Linked DNA regions of Homo sapiens: region 2 is linked to region 1. Evidence: fine-mapped expression QTL. Tissue or cell type: whole blood. Region 1 holds a variant in brackets; the other region holds the start of a gene. All regions are shown on one strand. Distances are from middle to middle.

Region 1 (8,178 bases):
TGTATCTGTTAGCACTGTAAAACTCTTTTCCCTTTTCTAATTGTTTTATCAGCAGGGGACGTAAAAGCTCATTAAAGCAATTTCCATGTGGAAAAAATTTAAAATTAAATTATCAGCCCTGAACTTACATTGAACTACAAGGTCACGGATTTTCTTTCACTTTACTTACAAGCTAATAAGTTGCCTTTTGCTATTTCATTGACGCTGCTAGAAGTCGGGAGACGCGTCGATCAGAGACCAGGGTTTTATTCCTCACTGCGCAGAAGACAGCACGGGCAGGAGTCTGTGGTTCCCTTGGCCCCACATCCCACAGGGCCGCGTGGAACAGCTCAGCTCGGTGCCGGGTGCACGCTGGCTCTGTGTCCCGGCCGAGGCACACGGACGCTGGGACCCTGTTCTATAGCAGACAGTCGATGCCTGCTCCTTGTCCGCGGGGGACACATTTCCTCCTCCCTCGAGGATGGCTCCCTGCACGCACAGCCCTGAGAGATGGTCCGGGAAAGAGCAATCCAGCCACAGTGCTCTGGACACGCCTGAGGAAGACACTTACACGTGGGAAGGACCCTGGGACTGTCTTTCCCAACAGCTATGGGCTTCGTGAGGAGAATAGGGAATTAGGGCAGCCCCGGGCTGGGGCTTTAGCAAATAACAGCAGGTGCAGTCAGTTCCAGGCAGGATCCGGCGGTACACAGGCCACAGCCTCTCTCCTGTGATAAGAAGACAGAAACCTCCACTTCAGCCTCTGATTGACCACGGCCTTCTCCACTTCAGCATCTGATTGGTCACAGGTCCATCCTTCATAGGGAATAACCAACTGGAGGCCGCTAAAGGGCACCTAGGGGTATTGCCAAGTTCTTTTGGCTTTATAAAAATCCTAATTGGGCCAGGCGCGGTGGCTCACACCTGTAATCCCAGCACAAGGTGGGTGGGTCGCTTGAGTCCAAGAGTTCGAGACCAGCCTGGCCAACATGGTGAAACCCCATCTCTGCTAAAAATACAGAAATAAGCCAGGCGTGGTGACAGGTGCCTGTAATCCCAGCTACTCAAGAGGCTGAGGCACAAGAATCACTTGAACCCCGGAGGCAGAGGTTGCAGTGAGCTGAGATCGCACCACTGCACTCCAGCCTGGGCAACAGAGTGAGACCCTGTCTCAAAAAAACAAAACAACAACAACAAAAAACCTAATTAGAGAGGCTCTTGAGTCGCTTGCTCAAGCCCATCCCACTTTGTGAATTGTGCTTTTGCTTCTTCAATAGATCTGTGCCTTGGTTACTCCCTCTGTTCTTCTGTTGTTTTGTTCTTTTGTTACTTTGTGCATTTTGTTCAGTTCTTCGTTCAACACGCCAAGAAACTGGACAACTCTATCCAGTAACATTCTGTTCTGAAGCCACAAAGATAATAAGATGCCTGTACTGAGAAGTCCAGGTGGCATTTTCTTACCCCCATCTTGACACTGCCGTTTTCTGTTTCGAACCCCAGTCCACCCCACAGCTCCAAACCACCCTCCCTGCCTCCACCTACAGCTGGCACCTGCTGCCGCGTCGTCGTGGGGCTGCCGCTGTGATCTGAGCCCGGGAGCAGGAAGGTCAGGCCTTGGTGCACCGGCTGGCCAGTCCAGACAGGAGTGCCTGCCTCACTCCAGGACTATGGACAGCACCTGTGATTTGCAGGTCCTTTCTTAAATTAACACCCACAGTCTAATTCCCAATGAACCTTGGACCTTCTCTAGCTCCCTGAATTCTCCAGGCCTAGCCTTGCAAAGTGATTGTGTGTGCTCACTAAGGACGTGTGACCTGTAATTTGTTTTTTAAAAAAAGAAAAGGGGACCGGGCGCAGTGGCTCATGCCTGTAATCCCAGCACTTTGCGAGGCCAAGGTGGGTGGATCACTTGAGGTCAGGAGTTCAAGACCAGCCTGGTCAACATGGTGAAACCCTGTCTCTACTAGAAATACAAAAATTAGCCAGGTATGGTGACAGGTGCCTGTAATCCCAGCTTCTCAGGAGGCTGAGGCATGAGAATCGCTTGAACCTGGGAGGCGGAGGTTGCAGTGAGCCAAGACTGCACCACTGCACTCCAGCCTGGGCGACAGAGCAAGACTCCATCTCAAAAAATAATAAATTTAAAAAAAAATTTTTAAAGGGAAAAGTAGAAATATTTTAAACGTTTAGCTCTAATAACAGCCTATTTTAACTGTATCAAAGAAGAAGGCGATTTCATAAGGCATTCCAGAAAAAACAAAATTCTAGCAGCGTTTGGGCTCCTAAACCGATCCAGCCATTTCCCTATGAAATGCCCTCAGGCCATCTCCATTTGAAACATGACGAATTGAGGCTTCCAGAGGTGAGATGGGAAACTGGCTTTTGAGTTTAACAATTCTCTGCACATATTCAGTTCTAGAGCACCAACCAGCTTTCACCATAATAACCATGAAGAGATTGTACAGGAATTCCTTATTTGAATTAAGTAATTGACACCAAGCAAACGTTTTACAGATTTATGCATTACGAAGGAGCTATGAAGGGCTAACAGACTTTGTAAAGTAAAACATATTTTATATTTGCTGCCTAAGGATATGTTTGGCTTCGGGGAAATGAAATTAGATTCACTAGATGAGATTCGAAGTGTAAAGCTCTGCAGTGTTCAGGGTCTCCCACAAGAGGGCAGTGTGCTAGCATTTGGAAGCAGCGGAGCCTCTTCCTGGACTCAGCTTGAATTGGAATTGACAACTAAGAAAACTATGATTAAACCCTGATTCTTAAGTTTATCTCACATAAAGCCAGTGTTCAAGGATGTTGAATAAACAACGATTAGTAAAACAACATTGTATTTCAAAATATGAGCAGTCCAATAAAAGCTATCGCAGAGCTAGTTGCCCTACTCAACAGGAAGTAGTATCTCCCATAACTAGCAATTCTCCTCTGAACTAATGAGCTATCACCCAGAAAGTAAACTGCATGTTAGATTAACAAGAAAATGTATAGGATACATTGAGTAGGAAGTGGCTGAGATATTTTAATTTTAATCCTTCATCAAAATCAGCCAATAACTGTTGTCTCTTCTAAGCTATTCCTTGCATGAAAAATCCTTACCAGCTGCCACTGGACTCTGGACAGAGGTCTCTGCCCCCACATGGGCCTCCCTTCTCCTGTTCCAGGTGGTAGAGAAGTTTCACAGCATCTCTCAGGAGAAGGCTGAGCACCCAGCGGTGTAGACCACAAGGATAAATCAGATGTGATGTCGTCCACATAGGGCTGGGGAGTTTTCCACAGAAGCTTCTACATTATATAATGTACAGACTTAATCTTGTTTTAACTCATTAACCGTTTTAATTCTTTTGAGGCCAGGCATGGTGGCTTATGCCTGTAATCCCAGCACTTTGAGAGGCCGAGGCAGGCGAATGGCTTGAGCTCAGGCGTTCAAGACCAGACGAGACAATGGTGAAAACCCATCTCTACAAAAAAAAAGACAAAAATTATCCAGACGTGGTGGCATGTGTCTGTAGTCCCAGCTACTCTGGAGGCTGAGGTGGGAGGATGGCTTGAGCCCAGGAGGTAGAGGTTGCAGTGAGCCAAGGTCACACCAGCGCACTGCAGCCTGGGCGACAGAGCCAGACCGTGTCTCAAAAAAAAAAGTATTGAGTGCACTTGTGTGTTTCCCCTTCTTAGTCATTCTGCACACCAGGGAACCAAGAGAGGAAGGAAAGAGAGAGACCAACAGAGAGACAAAGACAAAGACAGAGAGACAAGGACGGGAGAAAGGGAGGGAGATGGGGAGGAAGAAAGCCAATTTCATTAGGTGTCGTGCACAACATCAGAAAACTTTAACACCTATTTCCTATTTAACCCTAACACATGCTTGGTCTCAAGATAGATTAGCAAGAACCATTCCCCACCTTAATGTGGCTGGTGTATTCGTCTGTCTTGCGTTGCTATAAGGAACACCTGAGGCTGGATAGTATATGAAGAAACAGGTATATGTGGCTCATGGTTCTGCGGGTTGTTCCAGCATCTGCTTCTGGGGAGGCCTCAGGAAGATTTTTCTCCTGGCGGAAGGTGAAGGGGGAGCAGGTGTGTCAGGTGGCAAGAGAGGGAGCAAGAGAGAGAAGGAGGTGCCAGGCTCTTTTTTTTTTGAGACAGAGTCTGGCTGTGTCGCCCAGGCTGGAGTGCAGTGGCGCGATCTCAGCTCACTGCAAGCTCCGCCTCCCGGGTTCACGCCATTCTCCTGCCTCAGCCTCC[T/C]GAGTAGCTGGGACTACAGGCGCCCGCCACCGCGCCCGGCTAATTTTCTGTATTTTTTAGTAGAGACGGGGTTTCACCGTGTTAGCCAGGATGGTCCTGATCTCCTGACCTTGTGATCCACCCGCCTCGGCCCCCAAAGTGCTGGGATTACAGGCGTGAGCCACCGCGCCCGGCCAAGAGGCGCCAGGCTCTTTAAACAGCCAGATTTCCAGTGAACTCACTGGAGACAGCAGGAAGGCACCAAGCCATTCAGGAAGGATCCGCCCCCACAACACAGTCACCTCCCACCAGGCCCACCTCCAACACCGGGCGTCACATTTCCACAGGAGATTTGGAGGGGACACACATCCAACTATATCAATTGGCTTGTTCTTGAAAAAAAAAAATCACTTGTAAGGAATTGTGCTGGGCTCAAATACAATGACCCCTCCTCCCCTGTGGGAGCCTTGCTGTCTCCCAGAGCTCCTGCTACCCCCACAGACTCCCTCCTCTGCCCCCAGTGCCCTATCCCCATGAAAATCCCCTTTACTTGAAAACCAAGCCTGCCTGGCTCACCCCTCTCACCTGGGACTCCGACAGCCAAACATTGTTGTGGTTGTGAATGCTGGGATGAGAAAGCTGGAATGTTTAGCTTTGGGCTCACATTTCTCTACCCAGGTTGAGCTGGGCAATAGGAAATAACCTCTAATTTAGAATTCTAAACACGAAACATATTCACTATCTGATATAGTAGTAAGTTTAGGGGAGGAAAAACCCCTGAAACTCAGCCCCCAAACAGCACAAACCCTGACTGGAGTGAGATTTTTTGTCCCCACCCACATGCCTGCCATGAGTAACAGAAATTGCTTCCTGAAGATAATACATCCAGATCCTCAAATCATTTCTACAACCTTTAATAGGCAACAGCAACATTCAACCAAAACTTACCTGACAGAGATAAGACAAGAAAGAAATTACCGACAGCCAAGAAAAACAGGCAATAGGAAGAGATCGCGGGAATTTCAGGGGCTGGAGTTATGAGATGCGTCCTCTAAAAAACATGGGGTTACTCCATCCAAGTACTGAAGTGAGCCGATGGAGAATTTCACCAGAAAAGTGAAAATTATAATAATAAAAGAATCAAGTAGAAGTTTTAGAAATGTGAAATGTGATACGGAAAATAAGAACTCTAACGTGGACTGTAGGCAGCAAAGGAGGGGACGGGAAAAGTGGGCGAGTCCTCCGAAGCATTTGCACAGCCAGGACAGGTGGAGAACGGAGGAGGGAAATGGGCAGGGGGCACAAGAGACCAGGGCGCTCAGGACGGGGGAGCAGGTCCTCTGTGCACACACAGCCCCAGAAGAGAAGAGAGAATGGGGCAAAAGAATCATAAAGGAGGTGAGAACCAATGATTATTTTTATTTATTTATTTATTTTATTTATTTATTTATTTTTGAGACAGAGTCTCAATCTGTCACCCGGGCTGGAGTGCAGTGGCGCGATGTTGGCTCACTGCAACCTCTGCCTCTGGGGTTCAAGTGATTCTCCCACCTCGGCCTCTTGAGGAGCTGGGACTATAGGCGCCCACCACCATGCCCAGCTAATTTTTGTATTTTTAGTAGAGATAGGTTTTCACTGTGTTGGCCATGCCAGTCTTGAACTCCTGACCTTAGGTGATCCACCTGCCTCGGCCTCCCAGAGTGATGGGATTACAGGAGTGAGCCACCATGCCCGGCCCAATGATTTTTTTTTTTTTTCTGAGACGGAGTCTTGCTCTGTCACCCAGGCTGGAGTGCAGTGGTGCAATCTCAGCTCACTGCAACATCCACCTCCTGAGTTCAAGCAATTCTCCTGCCTCAGCCTCCCGAGTAGCTGGGATTACAGGCACCCGCCACCACACCCAGCTATTTTTTCTATTTTTAGTAGAGACCGGGTTTCACCATGTTGGCCAGGCTGGTCTCGAACTCCTGACCTTGTGATCTGCCCACCTCAGCCTCCCAAACTGCTGGGATTACAGGATGGTTTTTAATAACCAATCAAAGTCAAGTTAAACTCCAGCAGAAACAGATGAGTTTCCTGATGGTTGTGCACAGGCTTCGGACCCAAGGCAAGGTCTTCCTGTCTCGAGGCCTTCTGCCATCATCCTGCCTCCCCAGACATACCCCAGTGATATCGTTTGGATGTTTGACACCCCCAAAACCTCAGGCTGACATTGGATCGCCAGTGTTGGTGCCGGCCTAGTGGGAGGTGTCTGGTCACTGGTGTGGTGGGAGGCGTCTGGGTCACTGGTGTGATGGGAGGTGTCTGGGTCACTGGTGTGGTGGGAGGTGTCTGGTCATTGTGGTAGGAGGTGTCTGGTCACCGGTGTGGTGGGAGGTGTCTGGTCACCGGTGTGGTGGGAGGTGTGTGGTCACTGGTGTGGTGGGAGGTGTGTGGTCACTGGTGTGGTGGGAGGTGTCTGGTCATTGTTGTGGTGGGAGGTGTCTGGTCACTGGTGTGGCCCCTACATAAATGTCTTGGTGCCATCCTCACTCTATTTGTCTCATTTCATTAGCTCTCGCGAGATCTGATTGTTAAAAAGAGCCTGGCAGCTCCTTTCCTCTCTCTCTGTCCCTCTTTATGGCTTTTTTCCTCTTGGCATGTGATGCCTGCTCCGCTTCCCATTCCGCCATGACGCCACGAGCAGAATGATTTCTCACATTTTTTTTTTTTTTTTGAGACGGAGTCTAGTTCTGTCACCCAAGCTGGAGTGCAGTGGTGTGATCTTGGATCACTGCAACCTCTGCCTTCTGGGTTCAAGCGATTCTCCTGCCTCAGCCTCCCGAGTAGCTGGGATTACATGTGCCTGCCATTACGCCCAGCTAATTTTTGTATTTTTAATAGAGGCGGGGTTTCACCAATGTTGGGAAGGCTGGTCTCGATCTCCTGACCTCAGGTGATCCGCCCCCCTCAACCTCCCAAAGTGCTAGGATTACAGGCATGAGCCACTGCGCCCGGCCAATTTCTAATATTTCGGAGGCCTCACCAGTCGCAGATGCTGGCACCATGCTCCCTGTGAAGGCTGCAGAGAGGTGAGCCAAACACACCTCTTTTCTTTATAAATTACTCAGCTTCAGGTAGTCCTTGATAGCAAAACAAATGGACTAAGACACTCATCCTAACTCAGACCCCAGCTTCCCCATGAAGCTGTCAGCAAGACAGCAGCTATGCTCCCCTCCTCCCTCCAGAGTCTGATGGCCTCAGTCCCAGCACGTAGTTCAACCTCCAACTTGACTCTGCCTACCTCATGCAAATGAGCCTATCTCTTTATTCTTCAGGATCCAAAATGGCAACTCCCTGAAGCCAGAGAACCCATCAGAACTTAAAAGTAGACAATTTTTTTAGAGCAGTTTTTGGCTCACAGTAAAATGCACAGAAGGTACAGACACCTGCCATTCGCTGCCTGTCCCCTCTCCCCTGCACGCATAGCCACCCCCCACCAGCAAGTGTGGTGCATTTGTTACCATTGGTGAACCCACATGGACACGTCTTCATTGCCTGGAGTCCGTGGTTTACACGAGGGCTCGCTCTAGGTGTTGTTCATCCTCTGGGTCTGCACAGATGTACACTGACTCTTATCCACCATGACAGTGCCATGCAGAGTAGCTTCACTGCCCTGAAGATCCTCTGTGCAGTGTAACTTCATCACCGTTAGGAAGAAAACAATCTCTTTTAACATCACGTGTGAATAAGACAGATGATGTCCCAGCCCACCATGGGGCTTCCCATTCTTGTGAGGTGGGAAGGGCAGGACAGAAAATAAACAGTCCACAAAGAGATAAAAATAATTATCATGTCATTTTTATGACATGATAGATCATTCTATCATGAATGTTTAAGATCATTCAATGAGTGAAATGCAAGGACATGAGCGAGTAAGAGAGGGAGGCAGGCCCGACAGGTAGTGGCGTCCCAGGTGGTAGC
Region 2 (8,178 bases), 26 kb after region 1:
GTGCCTGGATTTCAACGGAAGGCGGGTATAAGGAGCCTGTCCCACCCCCACTTCCCATCACGGTCTGAACTAGTCTCTAAGGTTTACTTTGGAAAGCTCGTGGCTAACGGGGTTGGCGGGGGACTAGAATTTTATTTTTGTTTTACAGTCTCAAAGGAATCGCGATAGGTGCAGGGGCCACTGCAGTGGGACTAGGCTCAACTCTGAGTGTAAGAAGAAAAACGGGAATGTACAGCCACGGAGAGGGTGAGAACGGACGGAAAACTATGAAGAGGCTACATCAGGCCAGGGGGGTTCTTGCTAGAACCACTTGGTAGGATTCGTGCCACAGGCAGGCCAGGTGATAAGATACCGAGGGTGAGGGATGAGGAGTATGATATCAGGGGCGGGGAACTGTCACTGCATTGACCCAGCAGGATTCTTTTGGACGAAAGGGGACAGGGGTCCAGGTCAGAGCCTTGAGGGCTTCGAGGACCCTGCCTGGAGTTAGGTCAGGTAGAGTCTTTGCCACATTGAGGCTGAGAAGCTGAGCAGCTGATCTGCGGGAGTCCAGAGACCCTCATGCTTCCTGCAGATGTGCTGTCAGCAGATCCTGAACTTGGGTTCCAGTGTTTTAAAGTGTTGTTTGCAAGCACCGCGGTCCTGCTCTCCCACTCACAGAACTACTATTGCTCACTGGTGAAGGACACTGGATTTAAAATCACAGACGTTCTTTTTCGCCTCTCGCTCATTATACATCCCTTTGAGGACACCGTCATTTTGCTGTTTAGGAGGAAGAAACAGGCAGAAGAGAACTCCTCCCATCCCTCCGCTAATGGCTTTTAAAACAGTCTTTTTTGTAATGGAACAACCAAACCTCACAATGAGCGTATATTGCTTGTGTGACCAGAAAGTAAGACAGTCCCCTGACACCTCAATTAAGTCATTTTGGTTGTCTACTCCAGACACCTCATGGCATCGTACTTCAAAATTCAGCTTTGTCATTTAGCAGTGTGTGGAGGTGCACACATTGCTAACCTCAGGCTCACTGAACACTGTTTTTTTTCTATGACGTGGATAATGGTGCCTGCGTCAGACACCTGTGATGTTTGAAAGAACCAGTTTATCAAAGTGCTTAGCCTGACGCCTGACACGCTGTGCACCCAAGATAAATGTTTGTTGTGTCATTCGATCTGTCGAGGAAGGAGGTGAGACACTTGTGGGTGGCAGGGCGGGAGGGGAGTACACAGGCTGTAAACAGCAGTGCCCAAGCTGAGACGGAGCAAGCTGGGAATCCGCCCGGGTTTCATTCAGTGTTCCACACCCCGCATGGATACTGGTTATACCTGTGATCAGTTATGCCTGTGATGGTTTTTTAGAAAACAAAACTATTTTATCACTCTGCTTTAAAGATGGCCGAGTGGAAAGACACAGTCCTGGAATGTTTAAATTCAAGCTGAAGAGCTTACTAGCCACGTGACTGAGCAAGTTATGGTTCCATCTTTCTAAGCCTCACTTCATTCTTTGTTAAGACAGGCCTCAGCATGCTGTTAGTAGGAATCTAAGGAACCCAGTGCTGATGGAGAAAGGGGTCCAGTCCAGACCCTAAGAGAGAGTTCTCGGATCTTGCGCAGGGAGGAACTCAAGGCAGTCGCAGAGTGCAGTGAGAGACAGCTGCTCTGATACAGAGTGGGGAGCCCGCGGAAAGCAGGAAGAAGAATGTGCCATCTTTGTTTCAAAGGCATCTTGTATCAATGTAAAAGCCAAGCTACGTGTAAGTGCAGGTGGGCTGGCAGTGTGACAAGATCTAGTACTTGGTGGATGTAAATAACGTTATCCTTGGCATTTCAGTGCGTAACTACATCTAAGCATGACTATAGCCATCTTTTTTTTTTTTTTTTTTTTTTTTTGAGATGGAGTCTTGCTCTGTTGCCCAGGCTGGAGTGCAGTGGCATGATCTCGGCTCACTGCAACCTCCGCCTCCCAGGTTCAGGCAATTCTCCTGCCTCAGCCTCCCACGTAGCTGGGATTACAGGCTACTGTAACTGCCAATCAGGTTCATGTTGCCTACACAGAGCTGATTTATCCAAACAGGTGAACTGCATAGAGAAAGAATAATCCACACAGAGCTGGCTGTGCGGGAGACCAGAGTTTTATTATTACTCAAATCAATTTCCCCAAGAATTCGGAGTTCAGAGTTTTTGCTGTTGTTTTTGAGATGGAGTCTTGCTCTGTTGCCCAGGCTGGAGTGCAGTGGTGCGATTTCAGCACACTGCAACCTCCGCCTTCAGGGTTCAAGCAATTCTCCTGCCTCAGGCTCCCAAGTAGTTGGCATTACAGGCGTGCACCACCACGCCTGGCTAATTTTTGTATTTTTAGTAGAGACGGGGTTTTGCCATGTTGGCCAGGCTGGTCTTGAACTTCTGACCTCAAGTGATCCGCCTGCCTCGGCCTCCCAGAGTCCTGGGATTACAGGTGTGAGCCACCGTGCCCAGCCCTGGAGTTCAGAGTTTTTAAGGATAATTTGGTAGGTAGGGGGCCAGTAAGCTGGGAGCACTGAGGGGTCAGATCAGAGATGAAATCGTATGGATCAAAGCTGTCCTCTTGGCCTGAGCCGGTTGCTGAGTGCGGGCCACAAGATCAGATGAGCCAGTTTATCCATCTGGATGGTCCCAGCTAATTCAGCAAGTGCAAGGTCTGCAAAATATCTCAAGCACTGTTGTTAGGTTTTTCAATAGTGATGTTATCCCCAGGAGCAATTTAGGGAGGGTCAGAATCTTGTAATCTCCAGCTGCATGAATTCTAAACCATAATTTCTAATCTTGTGGCTAATTTGTTAGTCCTACAAAGGCAGTCTAGTCTCCAGACAAGAAAAGGATTTGTTTCGGGAAACCATAAACTAAGTTTCTTCCAAAGTTAGTTTGGCCTACACCCAGGAATGAACAAGGACAGTTTGGAGGTTAAAAGTAGGATGGAGTTGGTTAGGTCAGATCTCTCACTGTCTCAGTTATAATTTTGCAATGGTGGTTTCACTGGTTTTAAGATGGAGTTTATTTTATTTTATTTTTATTTTTTTGAGACAGAGTTTCATTCTTGTTGCCCAGGCTAGAGTGCCATGGCGTGATCTCAGCTCACTGCAACCTCTGCCTCCTGGGTTCAAGCAATTCTGCTTCAGCCTCCTGAGTAGCTGAGATTACAGGTGCCCACCACCACACCCGGCTAATTTTTTTCTCCCAAACTGCTGGGATTACAGGCTTGAGCCACCGCGCCCGCCAAGATGGGTTGTTGATTTTAAAACGATGTCACCCTGGCTCTCCTAGGTTCCTGTTCCCCTAACATCATGAAGGCTGCTGGCAGTTCTCTGGCCTCCAGGGAGGCCTCCACACACATTTACCCATGTTCTTAGACAATCCTAGGGACTCAAGGCTTCAACAAACCTAAATGAGCCAGCAGAAAAATAAACTTGAACATGAATGTCAACGTTTTCCCACATGTACTAAAGGGTTATAATAATTTTGAAATGTTTATTTCAAAGAGCGTTGGTAATTTAAACGTCCTATTTAATCCCCAAAACAGTCCTGAGGGGGAGATAAGGCAGTTATCTTCATAGTACAGGAAAGGAAAAAAGCGAGGGTCCAAGGCCGACTATACCCTCAGCTCCATTAGCCCCCGAGGCCTCCCTGACAGGCGGGGCGGACAATCCCAGTGCAGATGCTCTGTATCGATCGCATGCTATCGGTTCTTTCAAGGAACGTGTATTGATCATCAATTAAGTGGTGAGTACTCCTCTAGATGTCGATTCTAAAGAGGGAACAAAACACATTAGACAGAAGAAACATAAGTAACTCGAATAACAACCTTAGAGAGAAGAAACATAAGTAACTCGAATAACAACCTTAGCAAACTGCGGAAACTCCTACAGACAAAAACTCAGGTGTGGGCGCAGAAGGGCCGGGGATGCGCTCGGTCAAGACTTGAAGGTCCGGGGCTTGGGCCCTGTGTCCTCACCGAGCCCCGGGGAGGCTCCGGCTCCGTCCACACCCGGAGCGCGACTCAGCCGCGGCCGGGGCTCTTCTGGAGAACGGCGCGGTCAGGCTCTGCCGCAGCTTTCAGGTCCCCTCGGCCCCGTCCGGGTGCAGCGCAACCAGGCTGCCCGCGGAGCCCCACCGCCCCCATGCCGCCGCCCGCCATGGTTCAGCCCGGCCCCGCCCCTCCCGCCGGCCGTGGTTCAGCGCGTCCACCCCGCCGCCCCACAGCGCCCGCCGCGCCGCGCCCCGCCCCCCGCCGCGCCCCGCCCCCCGCCGCGCCCCGCCCCCCGCCGCGCCCCGCCCCCCGCCGCGCCCCGCCCCCCGCCGCGCCCCGCCCCCCGCCGCGCCCCGCCCCCCGCCGCGCCCCGCCCCCCGCCGCGCCCCGCCCCCCGCCGCGCCCCGCCCCCCGCCGCGCCCCGCCCCCCGCCGCGCCCCGCCCCCCGCCGCGCCCCGCCCCCCGCGCCGCGCCCCGCCCCCCGCCGCGCCCCTCCCGCGCCCGCCGCCCCGCCCCTCCCGCGCCCGCCGCCGTCGTAGCGCCTAGGCGGGGCCTCTCGTAGCGACGCCCCCAGGGGGGCAGAACGCGTGCGCACGCGCGTGCGAACGCGCGTGCGCGGGCGGTGTTTGAGGCCGGCCAGTCGTGACTGGGCGGCAATGAGGTCAGTGACTGCCGGGAGTCCTGCAGGGGCGGGGCGGCGCCAAGCGCAGGGAGCCCGGCTGAGTGGCAGCCCAGGTGAGCGCTCAGGGAGCCCGGGTGAGGGCCGGGAACCCAGGTGAGGGGCAGCCCAGGTGAGCGCGCGGGGTGCCCGGGTTAGGGGCCGGGAACCCAGGTGAGGGGCAGCCCAGGTGAGCGCGCGTGGAGCCCAGGCGAGGGGGCTGGGAAGCCCGGGTGAGGGGACCGGGGATCCCAGGTGAGGGGCCGGGAACTCAGCTGAGGGGGAACCCAGATGGGCGCGCGGGAGCCCACGTGAGGGGGAGCCCGGGTGAGGGGCCGGGGTGGCTCCTGGCGTCCGCGGTCCCAGCCCTGCCTTCCGGTGGGCGTGCGGCACCCCGGGCCGTGCGGTTCCCGGACAGCAGCTTGTGGGGGACTTTCGAGCCCCGCAGCCCGGGGTCCTGCCTGCGCGGGTTGGGCGTGGGGGGCTCCTCACCGCGACGCTGACTTTGGAGTCCTTGAGCGGCGCGGATGCCGGACGGAGGGAGGGGACAGGCGGAGGCGGAGGCGGCGCCGTCGCCCCTGACCTCGCTTCCCTCAGACCGGCTGGGCAAGTACGGTCAGCTCACCTGTGTGCCCACGAGGCGGGGAGGCGGCTCCTGCAGAGCCACAGAGGTGCCGTCGGAGCTGCTGTCAAGGACAGCAGGTGTCACGTGGGTGTGGCCTCCACTGGTCACCGAGTTAGCTGGGGCGGAAGGGGACAAGGTGCAGCTCAACATGGTGTGGGAGGCGGAGGGACGCTGGGTCAGTCAGAACCTGTAGGAGCGGGGAGGGACGCTGGGTAAGGTCACCAAAGTGTGCGGGGGAGAGAGCGGGCGCTGGGTCAGGTCAGCAGGAGGTGGGACCCGCCTGGGCTCTGGGCCCTATAGCCAGCTGCTCTAGGTTGGGGTTGGGTGTGGACAGTAGGGAGGGGAGCCAGGGGCTCCCCAGCCTGTGTAGATTCTGCTGTAAGTGACTCTTCTCTGAAAGACTGGCGCGAGGCGGCTGCTTCTGACTCCTGTTTCAGTTTACCCTCTGTGTGAAATCTGTAACTATCCAGCTTCTGCTTACCTCACTCCCGTATTTTGATTTTTATTTACATACAACTTTTCAGGAAGGTTGTGAGAGGAAAGAGCAATGGTGCAGGAAGTGTGAGTGATTGAGGGAATATGAGATGGCCACAGCTCCCCACTGAGCTTGAACACTTCTGTGCCTCACTTTCAGATTGGCCGTCATGGAGGCTGTGGTTGTTAAGGAAGTTCTTCCTGAGCATCCAGTTTCCATACAAAGAGCACAGGTTCTCTAGGTGGCCTCAGAGATGTTCAATACACAATGTCTTCTGATAACGAGGAACTGGGCAAAAGCCTGGTAGGACACCGGGTAGGTAAATGGTGGAGTCCCTGCAACCGTGTTGCAGAGGAGGATTAGCTGTTGCTGAGAGAAGAGAAGCAGGCCGGGGAGCAGCTTGTATACTGTTATCCCCTTTTATGTAAAAAGAAGAGTTTATATCTAGAAAAACAATTGACCCAGCAGGCACCAAAAAATAGTGATGGTGCTTGGAGCTGTGTAAGAGGATTGTAAATTTTTATTTTTGTATTTTTATGCTTGTTTATATTTTCTGAATTTTGTGTATTAAACATGTATTTCTGTTGATTTTGGAAAACATTTTTACAACCCATCAATGTATAATTTTCAAAATGTTAGAAGTATAATTCTCATGTAAATAGCTCTTGTCAGGTTATATTTCAGTCATTAATGCAGTATACAGCAGGATAGGAATGTCAGTTCAAAAGAGAATACACAAAACTAGGATTTTCTTAGTGAGTGGGTAACAGGAATGCTGAGAGAAGATTGCCAGATTAGATAATAAGATTGGTGAATATCCTGTGTGCATTGAAACCACAGCCTTTGGGATTGTCTTTTCTTCTTGATGGAAAGGAGAATTAGCTTTGCAGATTGTAAAATGCGTGACCCACAATCAGTGGTAAATAGTTTAGTTATTTCTCCTAGAAAGTCAAGTGATTGTTGGGGTTGTAAAACACTGAACTTGCGTTAGCAGGGAAAAAAGCATGCAACCTTTTTTTTCCCTTTTGACGTCACTTCCAAGTTTGGATAAATTATCTCAATGAAAAACAAAAATGCTGGTATCCATAGCAGTTTAGCCCCCATAAACCGGAGGAGCGCATAGATGCATGACAGAGTCGAAGGGTTCCAGTGGCCACTGAGCCTGGTTCCTGGTCACACTGCAGCAACAGAGCTAACACTCTTACTGATGTGTTTGCATTCAGATTTTTAAAAAACTTCATGGCCCAGTGCAATAGAAGAGCTGAAACCACAGAATCTTATAAGACAAGCTTTTTGTATACATTTTCTCCAAAGAAAATGAAGATCTGCAGCGTCAAGAGATGGTGGCCTTCCAGGAGTTGTTTATTCTCCGGCTCCACTTCCTCTACTGCAGAGAGGAAAGGGGCTGGTGTGGAAGGGCTTGGAAGCCTTCCAGAATGAAAGAACCAGATGAGTCCATTAGGTTCGGCCTCCAGTTTTTTGTTTTTTTTTTTTTTTTTGAGACGGAGCCTCACTCTGTCACCCAGGCTGGAGTGCAGTGGCGCTATCTCAGCTCACTGCACGTTCCGCCTTCCAGGTTCCCGCCATTCTCCTGCCTCAGCCTCCCGAGTAGCTGGGACTACAGGCGCTCGCCATCACGCCTGGCTATTTTTTTTTTGTATTTTAGTAGAGACAAGGTTTCACCATGTTAGCCAGGATGGTCTCGATCTCCTGACCTCGTGATCCTCCCACCTTGGGCTCCCAAAGTGCTGGGATTACAGGTGTGAGCCACCCTGCCCGGCCGATTCGGCCTCCAGTTTTACCCATGGAAGGAACAGTGACTTCCAGCTGTGCATTACACTTAAGGACTCCTTCATGTGGCCTGAGCCTTATGGTGCACAGCAAGGGAACAGTGGGAACCCCTGTGTCCCATTTTGCGTATCAAGAGTGAGAGGGTGTGGTTGGGTCAAGGAGCAGAAATAGAAGCAAAAGGAGAAGCTGAGCTCTTCCCATACCCCTTCTGTGCTGCCTGACAGAACAAGGCCTAGCCACACTTCTGTGGGTGCCCACCTTGTGACTTGGGGTGAACCACAGCTGTTCTCAGTACAACGCTGATGCCACGAAAGGACAGCAGAGCTCTGCAGGACTCCAGGAAGACTGGGCGCTTGGGCTGGATCCTGCCTCTGGGACTGGCCTTCTACCCTCATGGCTGAGAGAGCTGAGGAGTTCACCTCCTTTGTGAACTCCTGGCTGGAGGATGCTGGTTGGCATTAACTAAACTCAGAGACCCACAGTAACGAGTTAGACTAGAACAGCACCAGCTTACCCAGAAAGTCAGGAGGTTTGAGCAAAGAATCAGAATGGGGGATTCACTACAGGACTGGAAGGGGAAGTAAGCATTCTGGTCTTTATAATCTGCTGTTTCTGCATCCCTAATTG

The links. PIP is the estimated chance that this variant, and not a neighbour inherited with it, causes the effect.
Region 2: it holds the start of CLN8, and the variant in region 1 is fine-mapped to the expression of CLN8 in whole blood (INTERVAL, PIP 0.98).

Annotation. Positions count from the first base shown.
Region 1 is chr8:1,732,970-1,741,147 of GRCh38, forward strand. No RefSeq gene overlaps it. Among named protein-coding and RNA genes, the nearest start is that of CLN8, 27 kb to the right of the region's middle. The variant T/C (reference allele first, on the strand shown) is at 4,237.
Region 2 is chr8:1,759,149-1,767,326 of GRCh38, forward strand. CLN8 (CLN8 transmembrane ER and ERGIC protein) reads left to right here and starts at 4,641. Exons shown (of 3, transcript NM_018941.4): 1 at 4,641-4,737. It overlaps CLN8-AS1 (CLN8 antisense RNA 1), which reads right to left and starts at 5,436. Exons shown (of 2, transcript NR_134303.1): 1 at 5,286-5,436; 2 at 2,815-3,780.